Linked DNA regions of Homo sapiens. The protein of the gene in region 1 purifies or fractionates together with the protein of each later gene. This does not show direct contact. Each region holds a gene or a part of one and is shown on either strand. Other genes may lie near its edges. The genes, in order: ARHGEF15, ZNF326, FAM76B and RDX.

The links.
Region 2: the proteins of ARHGEF15 (region 1) and ZNF326 purify together in Homo sapiens (affinity purification with mass spectrometry, with the first as the bait; one large-scale study listed by BioGRID). This does not show direct contact.
Region 3: the proteins of ARHGEF15 (region 1) and FAM76B purify together in Homo sapiens (affinity purification with mass spectrometry, with the first as the bait; one large-scale study listed by BioGRID). This does not show direct contact.
Region 4: the proteins of ARHGEF15 (region 1) and RDX purify together in Homo sapiens (affinity purification with mass spectrometry, with the first as the bait; one large-scale study listed by BioGRID). This does not show direct contact.

What each region holds. Positions count from the first base shown.
Region 1 is NC_000017.11:8,305,693-8,314,306, forward strand, and holds the start of ARHGEF15 (rho guanine nucleotide exchange factor 15), read left to right. Parts: upstream 1-4,548; 5' UTR 4,549-4,651; intron 4,652-5,129; exon of another isoform or gene 5,130-5,171; intron 5,172-6,298; 5' UTR 6,299-6,347; coding exon 6,348-6,948; intron 6,949-7,229; coding exon 7,230-7,562; intron 7,563-7,808; coding exon 7,809-7,863; intron 7,864-8,325; exon of another isoform or gene 8,326-8,461; intron 8,462-8,614. UniProt on the Homo sapiens protein: Specific GEF for RhoA activation. Does not activate RAC1 or CDC42. Regulates vascular smooth muscle contractility. Negatively regulates excitatory synapse development by suppressing the synapse-promoting activity of EPHB2.
Region 2 is NC_000001.11:90,006,409-90,014,387, reverse strand, and holds part of ZNF326 (DBIRD complex subunit ZNF326), read right to left. Parts: exon of another isoform or gene 7,943-7,979; intron 7,044-7,942; coding exon 6,638-7,043; intron 4,301-6,637; coding exon 4,102-4,300; intron 1,263-4,101; coding exon 1,151-1,262; intron 1-1,150. UniProt on the Homo sapiens protein: Core component of the DBIRD complex, a multiprotein complex that acts at the interface between core mRNP particles and RNA polymerase II (RNAPII) and integrates transcript elongation with the regulation of alternative splicing: the DBIRD complex affects local transcript elongation rates and alternative splicing of a large set of exons embedded in (A + T)-rich DNA regions.
Region 3 is NC_000011.10:95,776,835-95,784,813, forward strand, and holds part of FAM76B (protein FAM76B), read right to left. Parts: intron 6,431-7,979; coding exon 6,231-6,430; intron 3,115-6,230; coding exon of another isoform or gene 3,093-3,114; coding exon 3,045-3,092; intron 2,854-3,044; coding exon 2,773-2,853; intron 2,302-2,772; coding exon of another isoform or gene 2,292-2,301; exon of another isoform or gene 2,244-2,291; intron 2,124-2,243; coding exon 1,988-2,123; intron 1-1,987. UniProt on the Homo sapiens protein: Negatively regulates the NF-kappa-B-mediated inflammatory pathway by preventing the translocation of HNRNPA2B1 from the nucleus to the cytoplasm.
Region 4 is NC_000011.10:110,252,244-110,260,222, reverse strand, and holds part of RDX (radixin), read left to right. Parts: intron 1-2,033; coding exon 2,034-2,117; intron 2,118-2,309; coding exon 2,310-2,456; intron 2,457-4,816; coding exon of another isoform or gene 4,817-4,837; coding exon 4,838-4,934; intron 4,935-6,113; coding exon 6,114-6,277; intron 6,278-7,979. UniProt on the Homo sapiens protein: Probably plays a crucial role in the binding of the barbed end of actin filaments to the plasma membrane.

The DNA.
Region 1 (8,614 bases):
CCCAGCACTTTGGGAGGCTGAGGTGGGCGGATCATCTGAGGTCAGAAGTTCGAGACCAGCCTGGCCAACATGGTGAAACTCCATCTCTACTAAAAATAATAGCAAAAATTAGCCGGACACAGTGGCACACGCCGGTAATCCCAGCTACTCGGGAGGCTAAGGCAGGAGAATTGCTTGAACCCGGGAGGTGGAGGTTGTAGTGAATCAAGATCATGCCACTGCACTCCAGCCTGGGCAACAGAAAGAGTATCAAAAAATAAAAAAATAAAAGGCTGGGCACGGTGGCTCATGTCTGTAATCCCAGTACTTTGGGAGGCCGAGGCAGGCAGATCACTTGAGGTCAGGAGTTCAAGACCAACCTGGCCAACGTGGTGAAACTCTATCTCTACTAAAAGTACAAAAATTAGCCGGACGTGGTGGCGCATGCCTGTAATCCTAGCTGCTTAGAAGGTTGAGGTAAGACAATTGCTTGAACCCAAGAGGCAGAGGTTGCAGTGAGCCGAAATCCTGCCACTGCATTCCAGCCTGGGCAACACAGACTTCGTCTCAGAAAAAAAAAAAAGAAAAAAAAAAGAGGAGTAGTGAACTGTGGGAAGGATTCAATTCAATTTGGTTCAATTCATCAACTATTGAGCACCTATTATGTGCCTGATCCTCTTCCAGAACTTTGGGATATACAGTGTGAAAGGAAAATGAATCTTGGGGCCCCCAAATCACTAAGCTAAAGAAAAAGTCAAGCTGGGAACTGCTTAGGGCAAACTGCCTCCCATTCTACTCAAAGTCATCCCTCTGCTCACTGAGATAAATGCATATCTGGAGCCGGGGCGCAGTGGCTCACGCCTGTAATCCCATCACTTTGGGAGGCCGAGGCGGGCAGATCACGAGGTCAGGAGATCGAAACCATCCTGGTCAACATGGTGAAACCCCGTCTCTACTAAAAATACAAAAATTAGCTGGGCGTGGTCGTGGGCACCTATAGTCCCAGCTACTCGGGAGGCTGAGGCAGGAGAATCACTTGAACCCGGGAGGCGGAGGTTGCAGTGAGCCAAGATCACACCACTGCACTCCAGCCTGGGTGACAGAGTGAGACTTTGTCAAAAAAAAAAAAAAAGCATATCTGATTGCCTCCTTTGGAAAGGCTAATCAGAAACTGAAAAGAATGCAACAGTTTGTCTCTCACCTACCTGTGACCTGGAAGCCCTCTCCGTGCTTGAGTTGTCCCGCCTTTCCAGACTAAACCAATGTACGTCTTACTTATATCGATTGAGGTCTTATGTCTCCCTAAAATGTATAAAACCAACCAAGCTGTGCCCTAACCACCTTGGACACATGTCATCAAGATCTCCTGAAGCTGTGTCACAGGTGTGTGCTCTCAACCTTGGCAAAATAAATTTTTTTTTTTTTTGAGATGGAGTCTCACTCTGTCGTGCCCAGGCTGGTGTGCAGTGGTGTGATCCTGGCTCACTGCAACCTCTGCCTCCCGGGTTCAAGTGATTCTTCTGCCTCAGCCTCCTGAGTAGCAGGGATTATAGGCATGCACCACCATGCGCGGCTAATATTTTGTATTTTTAGTAGAATCAGATTTTCACCCTGTTGGCCAGGCTGGTCTCGAACTCCTGACCTCGGTGATCTGCCCACCTTGCCTGGCTAAACTGCCTACTTTTGTATTGTGTTACCTGATTTATTGACTAAAATAGTTATTGCAACAGAGGCTACTCTTGCTTTTTTTCTTTTTCCTTTTCATTTTTTTTTTTGAGATGGAATCTCTGTCACCTAGGCTGGAGTGCAGTGGCCCGATCTCGGCCCACTGCAACCTCCGCCTCCCGGGTTCAAGCAATTCTCCTGCCTCAGCCTCCAAAGTAGCTGGGATTACAGGCGCCTGCCACCACGCCCAGCTAATTTTTGTATTTTTAGCAGAGATGGGGTTTCACCATATTGGCCAGGCTGGTTTTGAACCCCTGACTTCAGGTGATCCACCCACCTCGGCCTCCAAAAGTGTTGGGATTACAGGTGTGAGCCACCATGCCAGGCCAAAAACAATTTTTTAAAATTAAGTTTATTACATCCATGTATTTTTCTGTATGTGCTTTTAAAGTCCTTGTGACACTGAGTTACAGGGCTTTGATTCTTGGGTCTAAAAAGGACACCAATTCTGCTAAATCTTAAAAACTAACATCAATTAAAGCCTCATCTTCAGGCCCAGTAGAAGATGCCAATCAAAATAACTGTATTGCCGAGACACACGGCCACAAATTAAAGCTGTTAAACTCCTCAAGGCCCAGGGACTATTGCAGAAGAGGTGGGCATGTGAGATGGTAAGGGTTGATTTTGAGAAATAAAATAAATTCAGTTTCTCTATAAATTAACCATTAATGTCAAAGACACACTGATGCAAGACCAGCATATGGGCCCCTGTGTCAGATTCACAAGGTTTTCTTGGAGCATTAACTGACTCCTTAATAAAGGTTATAAAGGTTATACAAAGGTTATGGAAGTTACATCTTATGGTCAAGATTAAAATGTTATAGACTATTTATAAAATTTTTGGGGCCAGGTGTGGTGGCTCACGCCTGTAATCCCAGCACTTTGGGAGGCCGAGTCGGGCATATCACGAGGTCAGGAGTTCGAGACCAGCCTGGCCAACATGGGGAAACCCTGCCTCTACTAAAAAATACAAAAAATTAGCCGGGCATGGTGGCAGATGCCTGTAATCCCAGCTATTCGGGAGACTGAGGTAGAAGAATCACTTGAACCTAGGAGGCGGAGGTTGCAGTGAGCAGAGATCGCACCACTGCACTCCAGCCTAGGCAACAGAGCAAGACTCCGTCTCAAAAAAAAAATTTTTTTTTGGAAAAAATTTAATTGGCTTCATGCTGTTTTTATTGGGGCTTATTGTTTGGAAAATTAAGTCTCTTCTGGGATTACAGGGGAGTGCCACCATGCCTGGCTAATTTTTTTTTTTTTTTTGAGATGGAGTTTCACTCTTGTTGCCCAGGCTGGAGTGCAATGGCACGATCTCAGCTCACTGCAACCTCCGCCTCCTGGGCTCAAGTGATTCTTGTGCCTCAGACTCCTGAGTAGCTGGGATTACAGGCGAGTGCCACCATGCCCGGCTAATTTTTTTTTTTTTTTTGAGATGGAGTTTCACTCTTGTTGCCCAGGCTGGAGTGCAATGGCACGATCTCAGCTCACTGCAACTGCCACCTCCTGGGTTCAAGTGATTCTCTCTCCTCAGCCTCCAGAGCAGCTGGGATTACAGGTGCCCGCCACCATGCCCAGCTAATTTTTGTATTTTTTTTTTTTAGTAGAGATGGGGTTTCACCATGTTGGCCAGGCTGGTCTCAAACTTCTGGCCTCAGATGATCCACCCTCCTTGGCCTCCCAATCTGCTAGGATTATAGGCGTGAGCCACGGCTCCTGGGACATTTTTTATTTTTATTTTTTTTGAGATGGAGTCTTGCTCTGTTGCCTAGGCTGGAGTGCAGTGGCAGGATCTTGGCTCATTGCAACCTCCACCTCCTGGGTTCAAGTGATTCTCCTGCTTCACCCTCCCGAGTAGGTGGTAGTACAGGCGTGCGCCACCACACCCGGCTAATTTTTTTGTATTTTTAGTAGAGACAGGGTTTCACCATGTTGGCCAGGCTGGTCTCAAACTCCTGACCTCAGGTGATCCTCCTGCCTCGGCCTCCCAAAGTGCTGGGATTACAGGCATGAGCCACTGCGCCCGACCTCTGCACATTTTTTATTGTTTTCAGACAGCATATTGCTCTGTTGCCCAGGCTGGAGGGCAGTGGTGCGATCACGGCTCACTGTAGTGTCCAACTCCTGGGCTCAAGTAATCTTCCCACCTCAGCCTCCTGAGTAGCTGGGACCACAGATGTGTGCCATTATGGCTTTTTTTTTTCTTTTGAGATGGAATTTCGCTCTTGTTGGCCAAGCTGAAGTGCAATGGCGCGATCTCGGCTCACTGCAACCTCTGCCTCCTGGGTTCAAGCAATTCTCCTGCCTCAGCCTCCCGACTAGCTGGGATTACAGGCGTGTGCCACCATGCTTGGCTAATTTTTTGTATTTTTAATAGAAACGGGGTTTCACTATGTTAGTCAGGCTGGTCTCGAACTCCTGACCTCAGGTGATCCGCCTGCCTCGGCCCCCCTAAGTGCTGGGATTACAGATGTGAGCCACCTCGCCCGGCCTGTCCACGGCTAATTTTTTAAAAATCTTTTGTAGAGACAGGGTCACACTATGTTGCCGAGGCTGGTCCTCCCACCTTGCCCTCCCAAAGTGCTGGAGTGCTGGGATTATAAGGATGAGCAACCACGCCTGGGCCCCTGCAAATGTTATACCTCCCTGGAGGAGACAGACCCCAAGTCCACACTTCTCTCTTCAGTCCTACCTCCTGGCCCTCCCCTTTTCTCTCTCCTCTAACACACACACACACACACACACACACACACACACACACACACACGCCAGACACAATGGCTGGGTGGGGCTGAGGAACTGGCTTCCTCCGCAGAGATCTCAATCTGGGCCCTGAGTTCCCACCCCAGAATCACAGGAACACACACTTGGAAACCTCAGCCCTGCATTCCTCGCTCCAAGGGGCAGACAGGACAGGCTGAAAATAGCAACTGGTTCCAAAAAGATAAAGGTAAATTCATGGGGACCTACTGCAGAGTTAGGGAGGGAAGCCTGCGGGAGGGTCCCTGGGTGTGAAATAGGCGTTGGCTCACACCCGGCTCAGGAGACAGGTGGTGGTGCAAGTCGGGGAAAGATGGTGAGACTCGCCGTGGAGGGACGCACGCAGCATCCCTTAGCTGAGACAGAGGCATCCAGACACCCATGCTGCTCAGCCAGGCTCTGTGCCATTGCCGTCTTGTCCTCATCCCTACCCCTGTCCACCTCACCCCTATGAGCCCCGATCCACACAGCTGTGCAGGTAGAACCTGCGCACACACTTTCCAAGCCTGAATTTCAGCTTTTCCCCAGACCCCTTTAACCTCTGAGACCCTGGATACCTCTGTCTCCTGGGGCCCTGTGTGATGTGCGCATGTGGAGAGTGGTGTGGTTCGTGAGGGGGGGGTGTCCGGTTGGGAGGCGGATCTGATTCCTGTTTCCTGCCCCTACTCACTCAGCCCTGGGAGGTGACTGAGAGTGGAGGGGATTCAAGGGTGAGTGCTTGGGGCCCGAGTACCTGGGTTCCTAAGGGTGGGGTAGGGAAGGAAGTAAATGCAGGTACCCGAGAGGGGGTGGGATCCCTGAGGGGCAGGGGCTGGGGAGGAGTTGGCCAGTGGTCAAGACTACCGTGTGGGTCACTTTGCTAAATGACTTTCTGCCAGAACACAGAGGCCACTGAGCTGCAAGACCCATCATCTACAACCCCCTTGTTCCCCCCTCATCATTTCTCAAGGAGCCAGTCCGAGGCCTGGAGGGGTCTGACTCTCCTGCTGACCCCTGAAGGGAGTTTGGGGGTTCCTCTGCTTCCCAGCCCTGACCCTGCAGCCTTCTTGGGATTGTAGCCTCCTTCCTCGAGGGAGGAAGAGAAACCCAGGCCGCAGCGCCCTGGCCCGACTGGTCCTGTCCTTCGGTTCATTCTCCCAGCCACCTCCCCAGGCCTCTTGGCAAGACCCATGGCTGTGCTGGGCCTCTCTCTGTGACCAGACCCTAGGGCAGGCGGGGATGATCAGACGCAGGACAGGAGAGACCTCGCCAGGACCTCCTCATCTCCGGGGGTCAGAGGCTCCAAGAATCTTGATGGCAGGAAAAGGAGACTAAAAATAATCCGGAAAGGGAGAGTCCGGAGAGAGGAACTGGGAAATGGGGGGCGGAGGGCCAGTGGAGCAGGGAAACAGTGATGCACGCCTCGCAGCCCAGGCCCGGCGGACAGGCGCGCCCACGGCACCCAGACCCAGACAGCGCAGAACACACATGGCACACCCACCCTGGCACCGCTATCTCAGACACTCACACCGAGAACTTCCTAAAGGGCCACACACCACACACCGTATGCTCCACTCTCCCCCTGCACACCCACCCGGCAAGCACAGAACTCGCACACTCACAACACACCATGCCACCCCCTACACAAACCACACACAAACCTCCACAACACACTCCACGGACACACGGTTCAGTGGGCAGACACGGAGCGGCTGTATCCCGTATTGAGTTTTATGGATTCTCTGGAACCCCCACACCAGCCTTCCCTCCTGACTTCAAAATCCTGCCTTCCAGTGGCCCCAGTTTACCCTCCCTGTGGGGCACTAAGGGTCTTTCTCTTTCCCTCCCTCCTCCTCAGGGGATGACTCCAGCAGAGCACCTCACTCCTTTGAAGAGCACAGAGGAAGATGTCAGCCCAGTCCCTTCCTGCAGCAACACCCCCCACGCAGAAGCCCCCTCGGATCATCCGCCCCCGCCCTCCTTCTCGTTCCAGGGCTGCCCAGTCCCCAGGGCCTCCCCACAATGGCTCCTCTCCACAAGAACTACCCCGAAACTCCAATGATGCACCAACCCCAATGTGCACCCCCATCTTCTGGGAGCCCCCAGCTGCATCCCTCAAGCCCCCTGCTCTTTTGCCCCCCTCAGCTTCTAGAGCCAGCCTCGACTCCCAGACTTCCCCAGACTCACCTTCCAGCACCCCCACACCTAGTCCAGTGTCCCGGCGCTCCGCCTCCCCAGAACCTGCTCCCCGGTCTCCAGTCCCCCCACCCAAGCCGTCTGGGTCACCCTGCACGCCTCTGCTCCCCATGGCTGGAGTCCTGGCTCAGAATGGCTCTGCCTCAGCTCCTGGCACTGTGCGGAGGCTGGCTGGCAGGTTTGAAGGGGGTGCTGAAGGCCGGGCTCAGGATGCAGATGCCCCGGAGCCAGGTCTCCAAGCGAGAGCAGATGTGAATGGGGAGAGAGAAGCTCCCCTCACCGGGAGTGGGTCCCAGGAGAACGGTGCTCCAGGTGAGTGTGGCGGGTGGGGGGCGCTGGGTGACCTCAATCCACCCATCTTCTCCGTTTTCAGTGCTAACAACTTTCAGGGGCTACCTTTTCAAAAATGGAGTTAATGTTTGGGATATCTGGTTTCTGTATGTCGGGATTTGAAGGGAGTCAGGGTGGAGGAGATCTATAGATGCCTGGACCTTGATATTGCAGTTGCTGGGCAGGTTAAAGATGGAGATGGTCTGGGCGGGGGTGGAGCTGGGCCCCAAGGGCTTTCTCCTTAGGCTACCTGTCTCCCACAGATGCTGGCCTGGCCTGCCCTCCCTGCTGCCCCTGTGTCTGCCACACCACCCGGCCTGGCCTGGAGCTCAGATGGGTGCCTGTGGGGGGCTATGAGGAGGTCCCCAGGGTCCCCCGTCGGGCCTCCCCGCTGCGGACCTCTCGCTCCCGCCCCCACCCTCCAAGCATCGGTCACCCTGCCGTTGTCCTCACATCCTACCGCTCCACTGCTGAGCGCAAACTCCTGCCACTCCTCAAGCCTCCCAAACCAACTCGTGTCAGGCAGGATGCCACCATTTTCGGGGACCCCCCACAGCCAGATCTTGATCTGCTTTCTGAAGATGGAATCCAAACAGGTGCAGGGCCTGGGGGAGTGGACCTCTGGGCTGTGAGGGGACAGGAGAGAGGCAGGGGGGAACTAAAGCCCAGCAAACTACAATCCCCAACAGGCACTGGGCTCTTTGCTTCCCCACCAGCTGCTGCTCTGGTGCTGAAGAGAGTTGCAGTTTTTATAGTAACCATCCCTGCTGGGGCTGGAGTCGGGAGTCCTGGCTGGGGATCCTGGAGTTTTTTTTTCTCTTCACTCTGGCTTCTCTCTCCAGGGGACAGTCCTGATGAAGCTCCTCAGAATACTCCTCCAGCAACTGTGGAGGGGAGGTACTGAACACCCCCACCCCTACTCCCTGGTTCTCTCCCCACCATGCTTCTACCTGAGGGCAGACTAACCTTCAGCTCCAGCTAAATCCCACCTCCACAAAGGTGAGGGGACAAGGGCCAGGGCTCTAGAGATAAGCAGCCCTTGTTTCGAATCCCAGCTCTGGCCCTTATCAATTCTGTGATCTTATAGAAGGCCGGGCACGGTGGCTTACATCTGTAATCCCAGCACTCTGGGAGGCCGCGGCAGAAGGATCACCTGAAGTCAGGAGTTCAAGATCAGCCTGGCTAACGTGGTGAAACCCTGTCTCTACTAAAAATACAAAAATTAGCCGGGCATGGTGACGGGTGCCTGTAATCCCAGCTACTCGGGAGGCTGAGGCAGGAGAATGGCTTGGACCCAGGGAGATGGAGGTTGCAGGGAGCCAAGAGCGTGCCACTGCACTCCAGCCTGGTCGACAAGAGAGAAACTCCATCTCAAAAAAAAAAAAAATCTGTAGCCTTCCTGGGTCTCAGTGTCCTCATCTGTGAAATGGGGCTAAGCATAGGAACCACCTCATGGAATCGTGGGGATATGATATTGTGAAGAGCCGGGTCCAGAGTAAGTGAGTGCACCATTTTAACTCCCTTCCCTCACCTTGAGCTTCTATTGCAATTATTGTCCGAAAATCTATTTGGCAATCATGACCATCTCTTCTATGCTATCCAGGATTGTTAATTATCTTAGATTCACCATTGTTATCAGAAGTTATCT
Region 2 (7,979 bases), on another chromosome or scaffold:
TTAGTTTTCTTACTTTTTAAAATAATTTGGGTGATGTTTTAATCTAACTTGGACATTAATCATTTCTCATGTTTATATTTTCCAAGTCTGTTTGCACTCCTTTCAAATTTTAAGTTTTTATTTAGCCAAATCTGCTCATAATTTCCTTTGTAATTTATTCTATAACTTTTAAGCCTGGGAAAAAAATCTCCTTGCAGAACATTTTGTTTTTCTGTAATTTCATTTTTTTTTTACTACATTCATTCCAGGTGTCATATGAGGAGGCTCTAAACTGATTTTTGTTGTTATTTCATTGTTCAACCAATTCCCCTCTTTTTTTTTTTGAGACAGAGTCTCGCTCTGTTGCCCAGGCTGGAGTGCAGTGGCTCAATCTCATCTCACTGCAAGCTCCGACTCCCGGGTTCACGCCATCGTCCCGCCTCAGCCTCCCGAGTAGCTGGGACTACAGGCACCCACCACACCTGGCTAATTTTTTTTTGTATTTTTTTAGTAGAGACGGGGTTTCACCGTGTTAGCCAGGATGGTCTTGATCTCCTGACCTCGTGATCTGCCCGCCTCGGCCTCCCAAAGTGCTGGGATTACAGGCATGAGCCACTGTGCCTAGCCCAATTCCCCTCTTATTTCTAATATCCTCTTTATTAAATATTACATTCTTCCTTACAGTCTGTTCACAGGCTAATCTGGTATAATAATTAGCTTTGTGTATTACCACATATTTTTAACTATTATAGCTTTTTAATGATTGATTATCTATAAAAGCCAGTACCTACTCATTTACTCTTCTTCAGAATTTCCTTTGGGATCTGGATTGGAAAGAACTTACATATTTGTAATATTTAATTCCTGCCCATGAAAATCACTATGACTCCATACAGTCAAATCTCAATGACAAGTGTTTCTTTTTAAGAATACTGTTATTTCTGAATATTTGATATCTTTTGGATTGCCAATATGAATAGAATGCCTTTTTTCTTATGTTTTCTAAGTAGTGATTACATATAAATATCAAAAACCAAAAGCATTCCTCTGTATCTTTGAACAAGTCTTTTCATTTGAATCTTAAGAACTTTTTAATATTACAATTGATGTGTTGGCTTTTTCTAGGAAATCATTTTTTAATGAACCTAATTTTCTGACTCTAAGTACAAACCTGTATCCATCTCCGTATTTCTCACTGTTTTTTTCTCTTCTGCGCCTTTGTTTCTCTCGCCGAGCCTCAATTCGCCGCTTTTCTTCCTCTTCATTTTTAGGATCAGTTTTTGCTAGGATATTACACAAAAAAGTAAAAGCTAAAATTCATTTTTCCATTCTCTCTTTCCAATCATCAGTTCGTAAAGTACATACTTATGAGGTATACTTAGTGATTGTAATCTAAAATTGAACTCACCAAAAAAATCGGAGTTTGAGACTATCCAGTATTTCTGAAACTTCACTAAATGAACTTCATTCATTTGAATACCATCATCATGAATTCTGTCATATCTGCTTGTCATCTATGTGATTATTTGCTACATATTTTTCTTTAAATGTGCTCATTTGTCCTATCCTTATTCTAAGCAATAATATCCTTATCACCTAAAATCATCTTGGGCATCACATACTTTGGGAAAAACACTAAAGTAACCTGACCGAGCATGAAAATGGAAGTCCAGTAAACACTGCAGAGCCCTGGATGCAAGAACTCATGTTCATATTGTAGGAGCTCTCAGAAAGTTTCTTAAAATTTGTAACCTCCAAAATAAAAGCAAATTTGTTCTCTTTTTTAAAAAATATTCTCTATTGTGATAAAATACACAAAACATAAGATTTACTAGTTTAACCATTTTAAAATGTGCAATTCAATGGCATTAAGTACATTCACAAAGTTACGCAACCATCTCCACTATCTAGTTACAGAACTGTTCATCATCCCATAAAGCAGTCACTCCCCATTTCAACCCTACCCTAAGGCCCTGGTAACCACTAATCTGCTTTCTGATCTACGGATTTGCCTATTCTAAGTATTTCATATACCTAGAATCATCCTGTCTGTTGCCTTTTTGGTCTGACTTTTATTTAGCATGTTTTCACAGTTCACCCATGTTGTACCATGTATTAGTAAGTACTTCCTTTTTTATGGTTTAATAATATTCCATTGTATGAATAACCCACATTTTTTAAACCATTCTTCTGTTGATGTATATTTCAATTGTTTCTACCTTTTGGCAATTATGAATAATGCTACTATAAACATTCATATATAAATTTTTGTTTGGACCAGGCACAGTGGCTCATGCCTGTAATCTTAGCACTTTGGAAGGCTGAGGCGGATGGATCACTTGAGGCCAGGGGTTCAAGACAGCCTGGCCAACATGGCGAAACCATCTCTACTCAAGATACAACAATTAGCTGGGCGTGGTGGTGCACATCTGTAGTCCCAGCTACTCAGGAGGCTGAGGAACGAGAATCGCTTGAACCCAGGGGCAGAGGTTGCAGTGAGCCAAGACTGCACCACTGCACTCCAGCCTGGGCAACAGAGTAAGATCCTGTCTCAAAAATAAAAATAAATAAATAAATAAATTTTTGTTGGAATACTACTTTAAATTCTTTGGAATAGAAGAATACCTAGAAGTGGAATTGCTGGATCATATGGACAGTCTATGTTTAATTGTTTCAGGAAGCACCAATCTGCTTCCCACAGTGGCTTCACTGCTTTACATTCCCATCAGTAATGTGTGAGGGTTTCAATTTCTCCATATCCTTGTCAACATTTGTTATTTTCCTTTTTTTATTATGACCATCCAAGTGGGTATGGAGTGGTAACTCACTGTGAGCAGGTTCTTTCTTATAATACATTTAACTTTATACTTAAAAAAAAAAAAAAAAAAAAAACTTAACTATTTGCCCTTAAATTTTTCCTTTTATGCACTGCTTATCCTTTTGGATGGCCTTTGAAAAATCTACTTATTTATATATTACCTCAAATAAGTAATTTAATCTTCCTTTCATATGCTAAAACTATGACATGTTGTACTTCTAGCCAAGTGACAGAATAGGGTTCCTTTCCTACTAATTTTCTATAAAGTCACATAGTCTATACTATAGCATAGCAAGACCTTGTATTGAGGAAAATTCAGCAATCATCTTTTTAAATGCCCATTTTACACCTGACAGAGAAGGCATAATTTAAAGAATTTTAGTTTCATTCTTAGCTACACAACACTTTTCTCAAGTTTTGTTATATAAAAAGGGGGTATGGGGGAGGGATACATATATATCTGCTTTAAGGGCAAATCAGTTTCTTTATCAAACTTTTGCAATATTTAACCATACGTGCAAAATATATCTTTGAAATAGGTCCCAAGAGAATCAACTGAATTTTCTATTATAGTAATGTCTAATAAAATGTCAAATTTGATACATAACAGTCTATCAATTGACACACTGTTAAAGGTATCCCCACAACACATACTCTGCTTAGTATCAGGTTTCCAGAACTCCAGAAATTCCAGAATATTGTTTCTTATTAAACAATAAGGCCTGATGAGAAAGTAATTTAAGTACACCTTTTAAACCTTTTTCAAATTTTATATTATAGAAAATATATTTTGAGGAAAGAATCTAACATTGCAATTTCAGTTTTTTCAAATATTACATATTAAAATGTCTATAATGTCATAATTAGGGAAAAAGTTATTTTAAAATAAAAGGGAAAAATGAATACAAAGCAAATTTCTGTTACAATCATATGGAGGTTTAAGAACAGGACTTCTAGAGCATGACTTGCTCTGGAATAAATACTGGCATTACCATTCACTGGTTGTTTGACTTAGGCAGCAAATTATTTATCTATTCTGTGCCTGTTTTCTCAGCTGTAGAGGGTTTGATACACAACCACAAGGATTCAGGAAAAAGGAATGGACCAGGTTATGTACATTTTAAAAGTATCTTTGGGTATTCATGACCAATTATTAACTGCAATAGGGGATTTACAGATCTAACTTCTACAATCATAATTGTTATGTAGTTTCTGTATATAAACATGAAAAAATTACCAAAAAGTATGGAATTTTAAAAAATAAAAAGTATCCTGAATCATAGCAATTATGTTTTCTTACTTACTGGGTGATTTGCTGAGGCTTATCTTCTCCATAGGTTTTGCTAGTTTGGGTTTCTTGATAAAGGTTCCACTGGGCTTATTAAATGGCTGCATCATTTTTCTCTTTATTCCTCTTGCAGCAGCAACTGTCACATTGGTGGATTTGTTTTGATAGTCAACAACAATTCCGGGTCTATGAATGCTTCCAAAATCACCCATATGCTGTAAATTTGTGAAATCAATAAATATTAGCATATTGTCCAAGAAAAAATATGAATTCATATAAAATTTTCATGTTAACTATCTACTAATTTTCACCTGAAAATTCCCTGGAATGTAACTAAATTTTACATGTCCATTCTGAAAAAACACATTGAAAAACTCTGTAAATTATTACATAAACTCAAATCCATTGAATTAGTATTTTTATTTCCAGTAGAACAAATAATGAATATTTGCTAACTATGTTTTTACTTTTACATTTCAAAATTACTTGAGATTATAGACAACATATGTGCCTGTCCAAATGTTACCACTTGTACAACTCTCTGACAACTCCTCTTCAGAGTTCCTAATTGATGTTTTCCCATGAAAAGACCCTAAAAGAAATCTTTATTTTACTAAAACTAAGATACACAAAGAAGACCATATTTGTAGTTTGAAGTAAAAAAGATCCAGAAATCATTTAGTATTCTCCCTGTTGAAAAAGGGAATGAGAAGGCGAGATGGAACATTAGTATGAAATAGGAGAGTTAAAGCATAACCATGCATCAACTTCCAAGACACACTTCAGATAAAGAATTGCATCTGACGTTCCATTCACATTCTTACCTAGAGAAACATTTTCTGACCCAGAAGCCCAAGAAACAAAAGTTTACAGATGAAGAGTCATGCAACCAAACGACTCTTTGTGTCCCTTCCTCTTCTCTTGTCATTATCCAAATCTACTACACCAAGAGGCCACATGTCCACAGAAATTTATTCTGCTAATCTTACTTTTAGAAGATAAAGATGGAGGAGTAATCTGAAGAGAAGGACCCAAGGGGAATTGTACAAGTGAAGATTTAAAATGTAGGTCCTATTGGCTCATCTACTTCACTAACAGGAGGAAAGAAAGAAAAGTCCATTCAGACTAGAATGGTAAATACAAAGTACAGGAATACTTGTTTATTATGAAAACGAAATTTACTTTTGAAGCCTCATTAAGAAAACACACTTTGTCTAAAATAATATACAGCATGGAAAATATTAAGTGTTTTCCAAATTTTCAAACTAGAATGGATTTTCAATTCAAAACCCAAAGCCTATCATCCCAACTATTTTCAATTAACCTATGATCATGAAGTATAGTGGAACTGTAATGTATCAGTTGCTTACATTTGTATACTATGCTCAGGAATGCCTATCTAACCTAGTTGTGTTTCCAGGTAATTTAAAAAGTCACAACAGGAAAATCTTCCTTAATTACGCATTAAAGGTGCAATGCATTTTTACATAAGTAAAGAGTAACTGTTAAAAATGCAAAATTTCTACACAAGTATAACAAGCTACACTGACATATCAAAAGCTAATAACCAGTCAAAAACGTGTACCCTACTACCTTTTTTACTAGAAATACTTTCCTCTGCAAATAAAATATTAAGAGCAGCTGACTTAAAAGGATTCTTACATTATAACAAAAATACAATACTCTTTAAATGATCAAACTATATAATAACCCCACAATCTGCATACACTTACTAGGTAAATTTTCATGTCAATCAAGTGACCTAAGAACATAAAGCATAATGTTTACACTATGTACCCTAAACTTAAACAACTGTGGACTAGTATATTTACTCATTTAAGCAATAATTTACAAAATATTACTTCCTAAGAAGAAACCATAAACATATCTGTACAGGTGGAAATTATTTCTCAAGAGTAAAACTAGTAACACGAGGGAAAATAAAACAACCAGCAACTGGACATATTGTAAGCGTGAGTTAGCAAAATTACACTGACCACAAATCATTGTACAATCTATTATACACATCAACTTCTTCACCACATAAACATGGCTAAGCTATCCTGATCTATCATCAACTTTTAGTCTCCTGTGTTTAATGTGAAACATGGAGCTTTGAAGAAATTCTACTTGCTAGAGTTTAGCCACAAAGTATAAACATTTTATCATACATTGCACCTTTAACCTACTCAAAAACTCAAAAAGGGTTCAGTGACCTTTCACAATAATCCACAAACTATTCCACCAGCAAAACTGCTAGTGTTTACAAGGAAAATGCAACTCCTTTTAACCCCTTTTAGACCAAACCAGTAGCCTCACCTTTTTAATAAAGGGAGATTTGGCACAACTTTATGATCATCTCAAACTGCCACTTATTTTCTGAGGTGCTAGAAAAACTTTTACAGTCAACCTAAAAATTATGTTTATGACTCAGCTTTTGCTTCAAAATACACCGGGATGAACAGTGTTTATTCTAGTTGAAAACGATGGTCTTGAAAGGGTTTAAAAGAGTGACTAGTGAAAAGAATCTGAAAAGATTCTGTTGTACTTACTCCTCGGCCTCGGCCTCTGCCTGTTGATGGTCCTCCAAAAGCATCATAGTTTCTGCTTCCAAACGTACTTTCAGGATAAGCAGGCGTTCCTCTCCCCCGAGAGCCTACAGGTGCAGGCTTCATATGGGGTGAAGAAAAACTGCTGTAGGAAGAGTAATTCTCTCTTCCTCTGTCCTCCATAAACCCAGGCCTCAATTTTGAACGGGAGTAAGGTGCTTCCCAGCTAGACCCGCCCTGGTTTCTACCTCCGAAAGAGTCAAGGCTATTCCGGTAGGAGCTCTCAAATCGACCACCATAACTACCTCCGAAGCGGCTTTGTTCGGGTTCATTAAAACCATAGCCAGATCTGTACAGATCTCGCCCACCCAGAGAAGACCTGGAGTCGTAAGACTCATAAGGTCCAAACCTGGAAAAGTTGCACAGTGAGGGAAAAAACAAAAGTAAGCTTACTAATGTTAGACAATTCAAAAGACAAATTATCAGATGACATTTATCAACTAAAATTCATTTATACCATACTGGTTTGCACAGTTCTACTTTTGTTCACATTTGATTAGGGCTGGGCAGTTCAACGTGAGACCAGATAGAAAGCTATCTGAGTCAGATTATAAATATGAATTGAGTTTAGTAAAACTTAGCTTTAAAATCTGCTTCTTAGCAGCTTTTCTATTTTATGAAGAAGAAAAGATTTGTCTGTCATTATTTAAGCCCAGCCCTAGTCTTGGAAAAGGTCATTTGCTAAAGTTCACAAACTATTCAAACTTTTTTGAATCTATCCCTAATATTAAAAATTACAAAACATTTACAATATTTTGGCTTTCAATAGGGACACAAATTGAAGTCTACTTAGATGTAGGTTATTTGTGACACAGAGAGATCCTTTTGCACTCCCAATAATCTATATCACAAACTGCTTCATTGTGTCTGTAGGAGTCAAAATTTGGGGAATTATCTCTGGTTATAAAAATTTAACAATCTGCCAAACTTCAGCCAAGGTCAATTAATCAATCCTCAATCACTTTTTACTTGTAGACTAGAAAATCTAACAAATCTAGAAGGATAAACAGATAAAACATAAAAGATCACCAACATATACCCTCTGCATATGAATTTTCAAGGCAGATGAGAAAGAATACATCTTATAATATATTCAATTATTTGCAAAATTATTTCCTTCAGGAAATTATCACATAAAACTACCCTAAAAAAGGGAGCACACAGTCTCCTCGAGGTTTTAAGAGAGTTAACAGAAGAAATAAATCATCTTCCTTCTCACAAACCCAAAGCATGGATTACAAAAGTTGCTTGATATCTTACAACACAATTTTATAAAGGCCCACAA
Region 3 (7,979 bases), on another chromosome or scaffold:
TTTACACATTCTCCTTTGTAATTACCCAGTATCTAATAAACTGAAAGACATACAACAGCAAAAATAGAGAAAATCATGGAGTCTTATAGTCTTATTAAAAAAAAAAACCCTTGCTTTTGTCAAATTCAAAGTATAACTAAGTTCTCTCTCTCTAACTTTCTCTAATCACAAAAGATTTTCTGTTCTGAAATGCCAACATACACCAGATCAGCTAAGACAATTACTCTATTCACTACACTGTGAGTTGCCTCCTCACTATGAACTTCTGGAAAATAAGAATTATGTCTTATTTATTCATCTTTGTATCCTCATGATCTAGTTCAGTGTCTGGCTCTAGAAATCATTAAATAACTTTGTGAAATCAATTCAGTAAAATAACTTCATCATCTTAGATTTATAAGAAAAAGTTGCAAATGTATAGTTATTTTAGGTTTACCATTAGGATTTTCCTTACAACAATGCTAATTTCAATCCCCATTAGTGTTGTGATTTTTTTAAAGAGGAACACTAACAAAAGCAGAAAACTTCAATTAACTGCACAATACAAAGATAGTACCTCTTATGCTAGAGAGGAAAGAAAAATCTAGCAGTCAATATTCTATAACTGATTACTACTTGGTTTTGAAATCATTGCTATTTTGCAGTAAAGTTGGCATTTTATTCAACTTTTCTCAAGGCTAATGCAGATATATCTGGCCTGTCTCTAAAACTTTGTACACAGGACAAATTTCCATAAAGGCTCATTAATTTAAAAAATGCTGTCAATCAAAAAGAACCATAAGACAAAGACACCCGTAACTATCCTATTTTATATGTCACTCCTAATTTTCATATACTAAATTTGCTTAAAGTAAGCTACAAATGTATTAAAATAAATTAAGCCCACTAACCATCAAGGTGTGGCAAAATGTATCAAAAATTACTGAATGCCAGAAGTAAAAGCCAACTCAGCACAGACTTAGAGATGGATATAAGTCATATATGTATTCATATTAAGGCCTTATTCTTTTAAAAGAAATGATTTTAGTGTTCTCCTACTGCATAATACATTTGATACAGGTCAAACTACATTGTCTGGGACCATAAAACAAGTACAAAAGATGATCAAACAGTAATAGCCCCTATGGGCACTTATACATACCAGGAGCTATAATAAATACTTTGCATTTTCATTAATCATCAAAACCATCACTTCAGATAATATTAATGCTCTCATTTAAATGAGAAAACTGAGGTCCAAAGAAGCACACATTCTGCTTTAGGTCACACAGAAAATGTTAGAACTAGGATTTGAATCTAAGTATGGCTAAATTACTTCAAAACTGTTTCCTGTTCCATGCCTGTCCACTATTGTGCCATCCTGATTTCATAGCACAAGACCTTAAATCCTTCTGTAATTCTGTTAATATTCCTCTTTTCACTAAATGAACAACACATTTTAATATTCCTCTTCATTTAACTGATGAAGTCCCAATAAGTACACTTACTTCCTACACAATGAGCTTTTAGACATCTATTGCTAATTACTATTACTGACTACTACAGGAAATTCCCATACCATTACTTTTCAGCAGTATTTTGATCTGGATTGATACAAATATATGACTGGATTGATACAAATATATGAATGTTATATCAAAGACTGTTCAAACTACATTCTTAAATCAAAAAAGTTTATGAAATATTCCATTTACATCTCATTTTTAATTAGGTATTAGATCTATTTTTAAATTACATGCTTACTGAAAATTAAAGTTTGGAAATTACTATCCTAATTAAGCCTCAGTTAATTCTTAGAACTAAAAATCTGAAAGACCATTTTTACCCATCTTCATTAGATGGCTTCAGGGGCTTTTGTAATTTGTCTTATAAAAATCACGCACAACAAACATTACCAAATTATTAAAGGAAGTCTAATAAAATTTGCGATTATCAAGCAACAGTCAACACATAACTCTTACCAGGCTTCAATGAACCATGTTCTTACCTTTTTATCTTTTTCTAAAATGGTCTGGTCTCTCTGCTGTAAGAGACGCTTAAGTGACATCACTTCTTCTTTCAATTGACTTATAAGGACAAAATTGTCTGTTCCCCCACTATCTGCTGACTGATTTATAGAGCTACTAAAAAGAAAAAAGTAAAACACAGTTAAATGAAGTAGAAGGAAAATTAGCAGGTGTTCAAATTGCATAAATTAGACAATTCCACAAACATCCTTAAGGCTAATGCAAAAAAATATGTACCTGACAGAAATGGATGCAACTGGCAAATTACCTTACTAATGGCACACATTACATACACCTGCAGAAATATAATTCAGTATTAGCTTTAAGGGGGTCAATACTTCTAGTGTAAAGCAATAGGCAGCCAATTTGTACAGTAACATCAGCAAACTTTTGGCTAATGAACTAAAACAAAGTAACGCTCATAATATTTTTAATCTAAAAACATTTTCTAAGCAGGTCAATTTAAAATATCACAATTAGATTTGTGTTTCACTGAAGAATAAAGATAAAAATAATGTTCTCCATTCAAATTTGTTTCTTCAAAACCCAAATTTATTTCCCAAATAGAACAACATAGTTCAGTGCCACTTTCTTATTGCCAAAATTAAGCTAAAAATTTTAAACTAATTTATGTTTATTCTTCTAGGTGACTCAAGTCAATGTAGAAAATACATGTTTCTATTTTTTTATCTAGTAATAACTGGCATTCAACCATAACTATTCAACTAAGTTGAATTTTCATAACACTAAAAGAATTCATTTTTACCTATCTCCATTAGATGGCTTAGATTCCAATTTGGGCTTTTTCTTTGGAGTTTCATTCTGAATTGTTGCAGAGGATTTATGGCTGAAACCAAACATTAATAAGAATAGTTAGAGTAAAAAGGACAGAGAAACCAAATGATAAGTTATTCATCTTCCCCTAAAATATTACTGAAAATACTGATTTTGGTAAGACTTAAGTAACAAAGTTGAAGGGATATCACATTTATAAATATACATTTCAAAATACTTCAGAAAATACAGCAATGTATTTACCTCTGTTTCCACAGTCCCTGCTCTTCTTCTGGACTTAGATTGCTGATTCTGAAAAATACACAAATGACATCTAATAATGACATTTATTTATTTAATACATCTAAATTTAACATTCTTTCTCAATGGATACAAATTTTATGTTTATAATATTTTCTTCAGAGAAAGGTATATTTAAGTTTTCAGACTAAGCTAATACATATTGAATAAATCACATTCTGATGAAATAAATTTTAATAAAATGACTGCTAACCATCTCAAGTTCTTCAAGAATTCTTTATAATCAGGATCTCCACAGTTCAATTTAATATCATACAAAGGGTGGGTTACACAAGTAGTTTTCGTGCTTGTGTCTAGGTATCACTGTACTTTGGCTGCCCTTACTATTTCAGACACAAAATTTGTATCTTTAAAGTTAAGGCTTTCCTAATAATCTGAAGTAGAGATTCTTCTTTTGGAGTAACTCAAGTTGCTCAGAATAGTATTTCAATTTAAATGGGGAAATATATTGATTTCTTTGATTCTTTCCTAGTTTTCTTAAGAATCCTCTCCAAAGTCCATAGAGCTCTCTTTAGTTAGTATTCTGGAGAAGTTACGCTGAAACTATTGAGAAATTTCATAGTAACAAATTATTTTACTTTTACTCATAATTAATACTGTAATACTCCTTTTCTATTTTACCCTAATACTAATAATCACTTTATAATTCATCATGAATCCTTCATTTTTTTCCTCCTAAACTTGCATATCAGTCAATGCTTCACTAACCCTAGCTTATTCACTCAGCATGTAGAGAGCATCTCCTATGAACCAGATGCCACGTATTTATACGATTTAGAAGATGTTAGAATACCTGAGCTGTGACCTTATGCAAATTACTTAACATCCCCAGCCTTAGTTCCCTCATATGTAATACATACCTTATACTGATATGAGCATTAAATGAGTTATATATGTAAAATCACTTAGTACAGTGCTAGCATATACAAAATAGACATATATATATATACATGTTTACTTGTGTCTAAAATTTACTATTGGTTCAGCTGTAGAAGTTTTTTAAGCAAAAGAAAAAAACAAACCTTAAGACTCAGCTGTAAACAAGTACCAAGTTGGGAAAAAAATGTTAATAGCAATAATTCCATCAAGTGAGTTATTCTTACTTGTGAATGAATGGAAATCCTATTGAGGAATGCAGTTGTCCCTTTTTTTTTTTTCCCACAAATTTCATTATAAGCCTAACAAGCCATACATGAACTAACAGCACTAACCATATCTCAAAGTTAAGAATAATCACATTAATATCACTGACAGAAACACTTGGAATTCCCATCTTATCTTTCTGAGGGTTGTCCATTCCTAGATTCAGACCCACCTTAGTGCCACCTGGCAACCACATCCCCTACCCCTGCCGATCACTATCTATCACAATATGAATGCTCCTCATTTTCATTCTGATCTATTGAACTTAAGATAGGACCCTACAAAGTAACTGTTCATCAAATGGTCAACAGCCATCAAATAGAAAATAGTGTTTGTATTTCATAAGTAACCAGAAGTAAAAAAATTGAAGACTTTCATTTTCAATACTGTTCTCTTTCCCTTTATTTTTGAAACCTGTCATTCTTTCAAAAAATTAAGTTGCTGTCACATACTTTAGTCTTCACAAACATAATCTGATTGTGTCCTTTTACATCATGCTAAGACAAATTTATCTGTAAAGAATAGGGAAAGGAGACATTTTGGGAGTCTTAGAAGTAGGTCTGACATATGCTATTATGGTATATAGTCATTTTGTCATATTTTTTCTTAAAGCAAGAAGCAAAAACAAGGTAGACTTATATTATTTTGCTTCTTGAAATACTCTGATATAAAGATCACAAGGTTTCTTCAAAACAGCCAGAAGAGAAGACACTGCATTGTAGTCTACCACTGCCACATTTAGAAAACACTACAACATGGTAGAATTAAACATCACTAACCTCAACGTAACCTCATAATCTAATAGGTGATTGGATACAGTTTACAACAAATCTTACTAATTAGACAGAACTACATTACATTCTAAAAATACTGCATGTGTTCCAAAATGAGGTGGGCATCAGTTGTTTGTAAATTCTGTTTTAAATAACTATCTGAAACTTTAAAGACTCACAGAAAAATTTAAGAACAAACAATAAATTATTCTGAAAATGGGCATGCCATATGTCCGTTTTTTCCATTTTAATTTGTGTTTGTCAGTTTAATTTGTATTTTCATGTTCTTGATTTTTCCGTGAAGACTAAAATTGCATTTTAAAAAATCTTTATACCACACACATCAAGGGTTAAGGTACTACTACTACTACATAACTCCCCCCACAGGTCACTTTAAAAATCAAGTACAGCTGACCCTTGAACAACCCAGGTTTGAAATGTATGGGACCACCTATAGGAGAATTTTTTTTTCCCAACCAAATACGGATCAAAAATACAGTATTTGGAGGATGTGAAACCTGCATATATAGAAGGCCAACTTTTCCTATAGGCAGGTTCCACAGGGTCAATTGCAGAACTGGAGTATATGCAAATTTTGGTCTATGAGGGGGTTCTAGAACCAATCCCTCAAGCATACTGAGGGAAAACTACAGTTGTCTCTATTTAAGTAGAGTTCCTAAATATATGTTTGAAAAAAACACAAAGTATCATTAGTTAAAAATATTGCTCATATTTTGGGGACCACAAAGATCAGAAATGCTTCTATCATAGTAACAAATTATAGTATTAAAATATGTTCTCCAAACCCAGTCATTGGTTTGTTTCGATTTGTTTTTACTAAAACAAATTGACAACTAAAATATAATTTTTCAAATAAAACCTTAACAATTATTTAAACAAAAAAAGAATACTGAGGCTTTTGATAAGTTATTTAAGTGTTAATTAACTGACGTACTTGTATTTTGACTTTACATGGTTATAATTTTATAGATTTTCCTAAATATCTGTATTATGGTAAACAGCTCAACATATTTCATGTATATAACATTCTACACTGAATAAAATGGAGACACAGCCTTAGACACTCAAGATGCTTACTGTGTACAATGGAAACTAGACTAGCACATAGTCAATATTTGCAAGAAGTAAACATCAATAAATGGCATTAAAATGCAAGGAAGAGTTTTAGAAAATATGATTTCAAAGTACTTACTTGTGATGGCTACTGCTGTGACGATGGTGATGGTGATGATGGTGGTGATGATGTTTTGGATGATGCTGGTCTTTCTCAGTAAGAGATGAAGAAGATGAATTTGAATGTGAAGATCCCAGGCTCTTCCTTTGTTCTTTCGTCTTCTGTAAAACTCTTTTGTACGATAAAGTACAGAGCCAGCATAATAACTTTCCATCAACCTTTTAAGAAAATGTGTTAAATTAAATGTACCCATATAAACTGGCTGTAAACGAAACCAGGTAAGATAAACCACTCAACTTCCACCTATATTCCACACGTAACATGCACAAATGCATGTATGCACATATTCACGGATTTTCTGCAAAACAGAAATAAAACTGGACTTTTCTGAAACTTGAGAAAATACTTGTTAGGAGAATTATAAAACTGATGAGGATGACATCAGTTTTGAAGCATTTTTAATTTGAAGAAAAAGAAAATGTTACCTTTTTTCTTATTCCAGGAGAATAAGCATAAACTGACTGATATACTTCCAAGAAATATAGCCTGAATTCTTATATCGCTGTGTCATTACTAATAATTTTTCACTACAGTAAGTACTGTAAATTTACAGAAAAACAGAAGCATCTAAATGACACACAGAGTTGCTTCTCATTATTCTTGCATTTCCTATTCGTGTATTTGCCTACCTAGTAAAATGTATCTGTAACCCAAAAATCAAGACTTGTAGCACTTTTGTGGCCACTGCACACATACACAAGAGTGGTGAAAAATCTGTGCCACCCAATAGCACACATTCTCAGCTGAGGTGGAACAAGGTGATGCTCTGCCTCATTTATTTCACCTCTCAGACAAGTATCCTTTTCACAGTCTGTTTAGTGCCATGTTTTTCAAGTTTTTATAGTCCCAAAGAGTACTGCCAAAGTGCTGTATAGTGTTCCTAGGCTCAAGAAGGTTGTAATGTGAAATGGCAAAGACATGGAATCAACCTAAATGCCCATCGTTAGTAGACTGGATAAAGAAAACATGGTACGTATATACCATGGAATACTATGCAGCTATAGACAAGAACAAGATCATGTCCCTTCCAGGAATATGGATGGAGCTGGAGGCCATTAACCTTAGCAAACTGACAAAAGAACAGAAAACCAAATCCTGCATGTTCTTACTTATAAGCAGGAACTAAAGGATGAAAACACATGGACACACTGAGGGGAACAACACACATTAGGGCCTATCAGATGGTGGAGGGTAGAAGAGGGAAAGAATCAGGAAAAATAACTAATAGGTATTAGGGTTAATACCTGGGTGATGAAATAATCTGTGCAACAAACCTCCATGACACAAGTTTACCTATATAATAAACGTGCACATGTACCCCTGAACTTAAAAAAAGGAAAGCTACGAAGGCTGTGATGTGTCTTAAAGAGAAAATATGTGTGTTACATAAGTTATGTTCAGGCACTCTTAGCACTGTTGGCCATGAGTGCAATTAAATTAATCGACAGTGTGTGTGTGTATATATACACACACACACACACACACAATTTTTTTTTTTTTTTTGAGACGGAGTCTCTGTCGCCCAGGCTGGAGTGCAGTGGCGCAATCTTGGCTCACTGCAAGCTCCGCCTCCCGGGTTCACGCCATTCTCCTGCCTCAGCCTCCTGAGTAGCTGGGACTATAGGTGCCTGCCACCATGCCCAGCTAATTTTTTGTATTTTTAGTAGAAACGGGGTTTCACCGTGTTAGCCAGGATGGTCTCGATCT
Region 4 (7,979 bases), on another chromosome or scaffold:
CCTGAGGCTGGGAGTTCAAGACCAGGCTGACCAACATGGAGAAACCCCGTCTCTACTAAAAATACAAAATTAGCCGGGCGTGGTGGTGCATGCCTGTAATCCTAGCTACTGGAGAGGCTCAGGCAGGAGAATCGCTTGAACCCGGGAGGTGGAGTTTGCAGTGAGCCGAGATCATGCCATTGCACTCCAGCCTAGGCAACAAGAGCGAAACTCTGTCTAAAGAAAAAAAAAAAAAGAAGAACAGTTACCATAGAGTATTGGGTGTTTGAGCCAGATTATGGTAGACTGGGGGCAGTGGATGTCAGGTATGGAAATTGAGGTTAGTGTATAATGGACAGTCCATAAAAGAAAGTTGTCTCTGAAAAAGAAAAAAAAATAGGGGTTGGGAAAAATTGATTAATTCATTTATTCACTCTACAAATTTTCGAGGCCCTCTTTAGTACTGGCATTGGGCATATAATTATGGTAAGCAATTGACTGCACTGGGTTATGTCTCCAAGGCTGATTGCATGCCTCTCTGTGAGCCCAGAGGCCAGACAGCAAGAAAGACAAGAAACTGTGGAAACCTAAGCTCTCTCAGAAGGAAGATGAAACTCTTCTCCCCAAAAGCAAGAGCTTGGAAAAGATGCCTAGAGAAAGGAGCAGAGTATAATAAGAACATAACAGTATGTCTGAGACCCCTTTAAGGAATTTACTCTAAGTAGTAGGTAACTTATCCAGGGGGAGATTTTATCATTCCTTTATGCTGCCAAGAAATCCTTGGGTTTCATGCAAGATTTTTTATATAGTAAAACAGTAATATTTTAACACCACAGCTTCTGCTGTCAGTAAAGTAGGATCTGGTAAATAAAGGTGAATAATTATCATATGAGCCAAAGAGAATAGAAGTCACAAACTGTAGTGTGCATAGTAGGTAACTTATAATCATGTTGACTTTGCTGATTTGGTGTTAAAATAGTAGTAGTAGAATATAATGTTTGTATTTGGCTGGGCGTGGTAGCTCACGCCTGTAATCCCAGCACTTTGGGAGGTCGAGGCAGGTGGATCACTTGAGGTCAGGAGTTCAAGACCAACCTGGCCAACATGGCGAAACCCCGTCTCTACTAAAAATACCAAAAAAACACACAAAAAAGAAAAATTAGCCAGGCATTATGGCGCACGCCTGTAATCCCAGCTACGCGGGAGGCCGAGAGCATCGTGGCACACACCTATAATCCCAGCTACTTGGGAGGTTGAGACAGGAGAATCACTTGAACCCAGGAAGCAGAGGTTGCAGTGAACCGAGATTGTGCCACTGCACTCCAGCCTGGGCAACAGAGCGAGACTCCATCTCAAAAAAAAAAAAAAAAAAAAAAGAATGTATTTGCTCACATTTGAATTAAGAACACTGGAAGGATACAAAAACAAGTTATTTGGGGGGTATTGGACTGGAGTATGACTTTTCACTCTACTTTTTAATTGAAAGTATTACCTACCTAAAACAACAAAATTAGTAGCAAAAAAGTAAATACATAAAGGAAGAATTAGGGCCCAAGAATTCTGGTTTTCAGTCTGGTCTTTATCTATTAACAATGAGCCATTTTTTTATCTAATGTTTTATTCCTTTGAACTGTTTGGGTTCCTATAAGCTATCTTTGTAATCACTTTATGGAGCAAGTATTATTTCAAGGAATTTAAGGATCCTAGACACTTAACTTTGAGATAATTACTGATTATTATGCAGTTGTAAAAAAAAGAGATCCCTGGTATCCTTCTCCCAGCATTCCCTGATGGTAACATCTTGTGTAACTACAGTACAATATTACAAACAAGATATTGACATTGGTACAATCTAGCCACCTTATTCAGATTACATCAGTTTTACCTGCACTCATTTCTGTGTGTATGTAATTTAGTTCTATGCAATTTCATCATGTGTATTAATTGTCTGACAACTACCACAGTCAAGTTACTGAAAGGATTCTTTACTTTTAAAGTGTATGCTTTTGAATCTTAAAGTCATTATAATTTTTTTTTTTTTTTGGTCCTCTTAGTGTATTGGAACAACACAAACTAACAAAAGAACAGTGGGAAGAAAGAATACAGAACTGGCATGAAGAACATAGAGGAATGTTAAGGTATTTGGGTAGCTATTTTCTATGTTTTCTTTTTTCCTTCAAAGTATTTTCATGTCGTAACATTTATTATTACATTATTTCCAAAAGATTGTTTGACTTATGTAAAGTACTAATTTTTAATTCCAGGTATTTTGCAACTTTAGTTTGATATGCTCCTACTTAAATATATTACATTTAGTTTTATTTCAACAGGGAGGATTCTATGATGGAATACCTGAAGATTGCACAAGATCTAGAAATGTATGGAGTCAACTATTTTGAAATAAAAAATAAAAAAGGAACTGAATTGTGGCTAGGTGTTGATGCTTTGGGTCTGAATATTTATGAGCATGACGACAAGTAAGTAAATTAGTTGCATAGTGAACTAGTCATTGTTCAGTGGTCTAAATGACGTTAATCTTATGTCCTGTTTTTCAAAGTAGTTTCTTGTCTTGATTACCCTTACTATTTTCAAACTAAAAGATGAATTAATGACACATAGACTTGTAGATATTTTACCTCCATTTTCTTATCACCTTGCAGTTTCAGAGTTCTACTTTTCAGTGTATTTATCAAATGAGATGATTGACTTTTATTTGAATTGTGCTGCTTTTAGCTCTTGTGAGTTATGTCTAGTAACTTAATTAAAATTTGCTCCCTCGATAGGTGAGAAATAATTCTTTAAAATGCTATTATGCTTGACAAATAGATTGAAATTGAACATACATAAGAAATCAGGAGCAATGAGAGAATGGATTTAATAAATATGTCTATCACATCTTAGAGGATTTTTTTGAACATTTATATATAGGAATTGTTTTAAATATGTTTGGACATTAATACAATAGAATATCCCTGTATTACACATATTGAACACTGTAATTATATCTTGAAATTGACCAAATAGTTTTTTATTATACATATATAATTCATCAATATTTTATTATATGTATAATATATGTATATTTACATATACATGTATATGTACTATACAAATACATGGGTAAATACTATATAGAGACGGTATATTATACACATACACATGCAATATAAAATACATCAGACTCTTACTTTTCAGGATTAATAACTCAATTGTCTTAGACTTTAATTTATTTACCATACCACATAAGCATGCAAGTCTATGCCAGTAATTAATGCCTTTTCCTAAGGCATTATTCTTTATTCTAGGTTGGCTCCAGAATTTTAATTTTTATTACTACAGATATCTAATAAAATACTAATTTCAAAGCATATGTGATTCCAAACAAGAGCATTTTACTATTTTTACCCTAATATCTTCTCATGTTTTTATTACAAAGCAAGTTAGAAGGTTATATCATTTAGAAGAGAAATTTTTGAAAAGCAAAAATGACTTCAAGACTAATTTTTGTAAACTGAATCTTTTTCTTTTGTTTTAGAGAATGGGATCTTGCTATGTTGCCCAGGCTGGTCTTGAACTCCTGGCCTCTAGCAATTCTTGCGCCTCTGCTTTCTCCAGTGCTGAGATTACAGGCGTGAGCCACTGTGCCTGGCTTCTTAATTTTTTTGGTGGTGGTGGTTCTGGCACATATTGGAGCAATTTTTTTAAATGTTAAAAAAGTTATTGTATTAGCTTCCAGGCTTACCTCACAAGAGTGTTATGAGAATTATATGAGGCAATTGCTTTAGAATTTTTCAAAGTAGCATATAAACGTAGCATAGTGTTCTCTAAAATACTATGTTGCATTCCTGCAGTCTCCGTTTTAAGCATGTTACTTTGACTTATATCAGGGGCCATTAGAGGGTCCTCTAATATGCTTATTGAGTAAAGAATGTTTTATGTAGAAAAGACTCTGCTGTGCTGCAGTACCTACTCTGCTTGAGAACTAAAAGGAATATAAATAGGTAAAAATTCATGCTGTGTTGTCAGAAGCCTGGCTAAAAGATGTCTTCTGGCCAGTATAGGTGTCAAAATCATTTCTCAGTCTTAGTTATTAGGACAATAGGACAATAGTGATGCATTTGATAGGTAGTCTGAAACAGTAAAATACATGAAAAGGCAGAAACAAAATCACTTATTCCAATATGATTCCCTATATCTTTGTGTGTAGGGTGGTAAAACGGAGTCAACTGCTGTGTATAGTCTCAAGAGTTTGAATTCCATCTCTATCATTTATCCAAATATTTATGTATGTGAGTGTTTAAAATTTTTGAGATATAATTCATATACCATAAGATTCTTTCAAAATATACTGAAAATTAAGTATTTTTAGTATATTCGTGAATATCCAGACATTTTCAAATTAAACACAGGAAGGAAGTACTGTTTTTTTATTTGCAGTAACTTGCCCGTAATTCACATGAGAAGTTATAAAGGCCTTTTTTTTTCTTCCCACTTCTTACACATATTTAAACTGTAGTTGTAGCTTGAATCCAAACAATAAAAACTGAACAGCTAGTTCAAACCCCAGGAGGCTCAGTTCTACACTTGGGTCACCAGGTAGTTTTTTTAGATAATTTTAGGAAAATACACTGCTTTTAAGGTTCATGACACATTTATGAAATCTTTGGACAGTTGTTTGTTTTATATGATTTATCAGTTTTCCCCTTAAAAGATAAGGTCAACTGTAGTTATGAATAAGTTAATACATTTTGAAAATCTGGAACTCTTAAGATTGGTCATTCAGTCAGTTTAGGTCCTAAACAGGAATTTTATTCATTGTTTCCTGCCTTTAATTAAGGAGATGCTTTCATTTTTTAAGGTTAACACCTAAAATTGGTTTTCCCTGGAGTGAAATCAGAAATATTTCATTTAATGACAAAAAATTTGTTATAAAGCCAATCGACAAAAAGGCACCTGTAAGTAATTTCTTTAATATTTTGTGTATTAACTGTTTAATATCTGCTAGTTTCCCATGATATCACTTGAAGAATAACAGTGTTCATTTATTAAATTGCTTCTGAGGACCATTCTCTTTCCATAGGTCAGCTTTCCCAGTGATGAAATAATATGTTAATAAAAATCCAAAGATTTAATTTTTTAAAGTAAGATGTAAATATTAGAATTTTATTTTATTTGAGATTCAGTTATAAATAGATAATATTTATTAGGAGGCTAATGAAAACACCATTCCTAAGAAGCAATTTTAAAGTGTTTCTTCATTGGTGGCTAGAATGTAGTAGAGGTAGCCCTATTCTAAATTAACTTCGTTTATACAGTTTTGCTTTATGAACTTTGTATTTTTGTAACTTGAAGCCTTGAACTTAAGAAATCTTTTTATTTAAATAGATTTTTAAAGTTCCTCTAATGTCAAGTATACTCTAGTATCCTAACCCTGTTAGTTACTGAAAAGGTAAAAGTAAGAAGAACAGGCTGGGTGCAATGGTTCAGGACCATAATCCCAGCACTTTGGGAGGCTCGAGAGGAGCAGATCACCTGAGATGAGGAGTTCAAGACCAGCCTGGCCAACGTGGTGAAACTTCATCTCTACTGAAAATACAAATATTAGTCAGATGTGGTGGTGCATGCCTGTAATCCCAGCTACTAGGGAGGCTGAGACATGAGAATTTCTTGAACCCGGGAGGCAGAGGTTGGAGTGCACTGAGATGGCACCACTGCACTCCAGCCTGGATGACAGCAAGACTCCGTCTCAAAAAAAAAAAAGAACAATTCTAGGTTAAAAAAAACTCTACAGCCATGAACGAAGAACCAATTTTGACATTAATGGCAAATGGTGTATAAGGAACAGGTGCTCATAGTTACTTTCGAGAACAAAAAGGAATAAATGACATTTAATGTATTGCAAGGATAAGAATATTAGCCTCTTTACAAAACTGGTTGGATATGAAAAGGTGAGGAACCAGTTATGTGAAAGTATGTCATGCTCACTGGGAGTTATGAAATTGTATGATTTCTTATTTCTAAACTATATGTAATATGACATTAAAATTCATACCTCATGTTAAAATTTAGTACAGATTGTTATGAGAGACAGTATCCTTGAGGAAGATTTTAAATTCAGAATACTTTATGTTTAGGATTTTGTGTTTTATGCACCTCGTCTGAGAATCAATAAGCGGATTTTGGCCTTATGTATGGGAAACCATGAACTATACATGCGAAGAAGGAAGCCTGATACTATTGAAGTACAACAGATGAAGGCTCAGGCTAGGGAGGAGAAACATCAGAAGCAGTTGGAAAGGTATGGGGTTTATGACCTTTCACTTTTAATTGATAGGAGTAGGCTATCTAAAATTTAAGACTGCTCAGTTTTTTAAATGTACCTTAAATTTGTATTTATTAATATTTTCATTATATTAAAATTCAAAGACAGTATTATCACTCTGTCCTTTAAAACGAGTATGTATAATTTTCAAGTTAGAAATCTTTGACACATATCTCGAAGAAAATAGCTTTTTGTGACTCATTTCTTGCTTTTCACTGATAGACATTGTTTTAGATATAGTAGTTTGAAACTTTCAAAATTGTTTTGCTTGTGACTTATATTTCTTAATTTTTTCAGGGTAAGAATGTGCTGAATATTTAACTTTGAAACAATGTCAGTGACATTGTAGAACACAACTGAAACGTCACTGTGCCAAGTAGGGTAACATCAGTACTCCCTGCCAAAGACCCTAATCTTTTTAACTCTGTTTCTCTTAGACTTAAAAAAGAAACTGTTAAATATATTAAATTGATAATTTTTAAAATTGAATGGTAGTGAATAAAATTTATATCAACCCTGGAATCAGATTACTGGGTCCAGTGACATTAATTTCCAAATCTGGTTTTAGATTAATTTCAACTTTGTGCTTTACTTGAAAAAATTTAGAGACCAAACTAAAGTTAACCTTTATTGAATAAATCTTTATGGAACAACGTGATAGTCTAAGAAATAGAGTAAGTCCTTAAAAAAAATTTGAAGAGCCCTAAACATATGTATTTTAAATATTGGATATAAGGTACTTTGTATCTAGAAGGAAGCCATCTGCTAGATACCATTTTGCTACTATAGTTTTAGGTTTTATATTGAATGATTTTTTTTCTTATTCAACAACTGTTCTGTGTAAGAGATTTTATTGATTTTTACCTATTTTGTCATATTAACTCAAATTATCTTCCTTAGAGAAGTTAACCACATAACAAAACATTTTTTATATGGGTTTGAAGCTTGTCAGTAATTACTAATCCCATCATTAAAGATACTGAGTTGGTGAGCTGAGGATGGTGGCATGTGCCTGTAGTCTCAGCTACTTGGGAGGCTGAGGCAGGAGGATTGCTTGAGTACAGGAGTTTGAAGACAATCAGGGCAACAGGCAACATGCAGTGTAGTAAAACCCTTTCTCTTAAAAATAAAAATAAAAAAAAGAGTAATGAGTTGGATTGTTACTTTGATGGGCTATGTCCTTTTTTATTGTGCTCATGTGCTGTAGCATTACATTGTGGTTCTAATCTTAAATGCTTTTTAAAAATACTCTTTATTGGGCTTTACTTTCTATACAGTACATTCTTATACACATAGCCTTGCATTTCCCTCTGTCAAAGGGAAGACTTCTTTTAGTTTCCACTTAATTTTTTTAAATCGTCTTAAAGATTTCACTGTCTCTTAAAGGTTTTCTAGCATGAGATAAATGAGGAATTATTTTATATACAGTTCCTGTATCTCATACTCATCACTCTATAGTATGCCTAACTGTTCTGCTCATTCATAATGTTGATATATTATTTACATTCTCAACTTACTATATTTATCTATATATCCTTTATTTCATGGCTTATAGAGAAATACTGTATTGCTTCTAGTACAGGTAGTATGTTTACTTAGTATCATTTGGTAATGGTGCTATATTTTAGTTACTCTAAGGCTTAGATGGAAGTGGAAGACTTAAGTTTCTTTTTTGGCA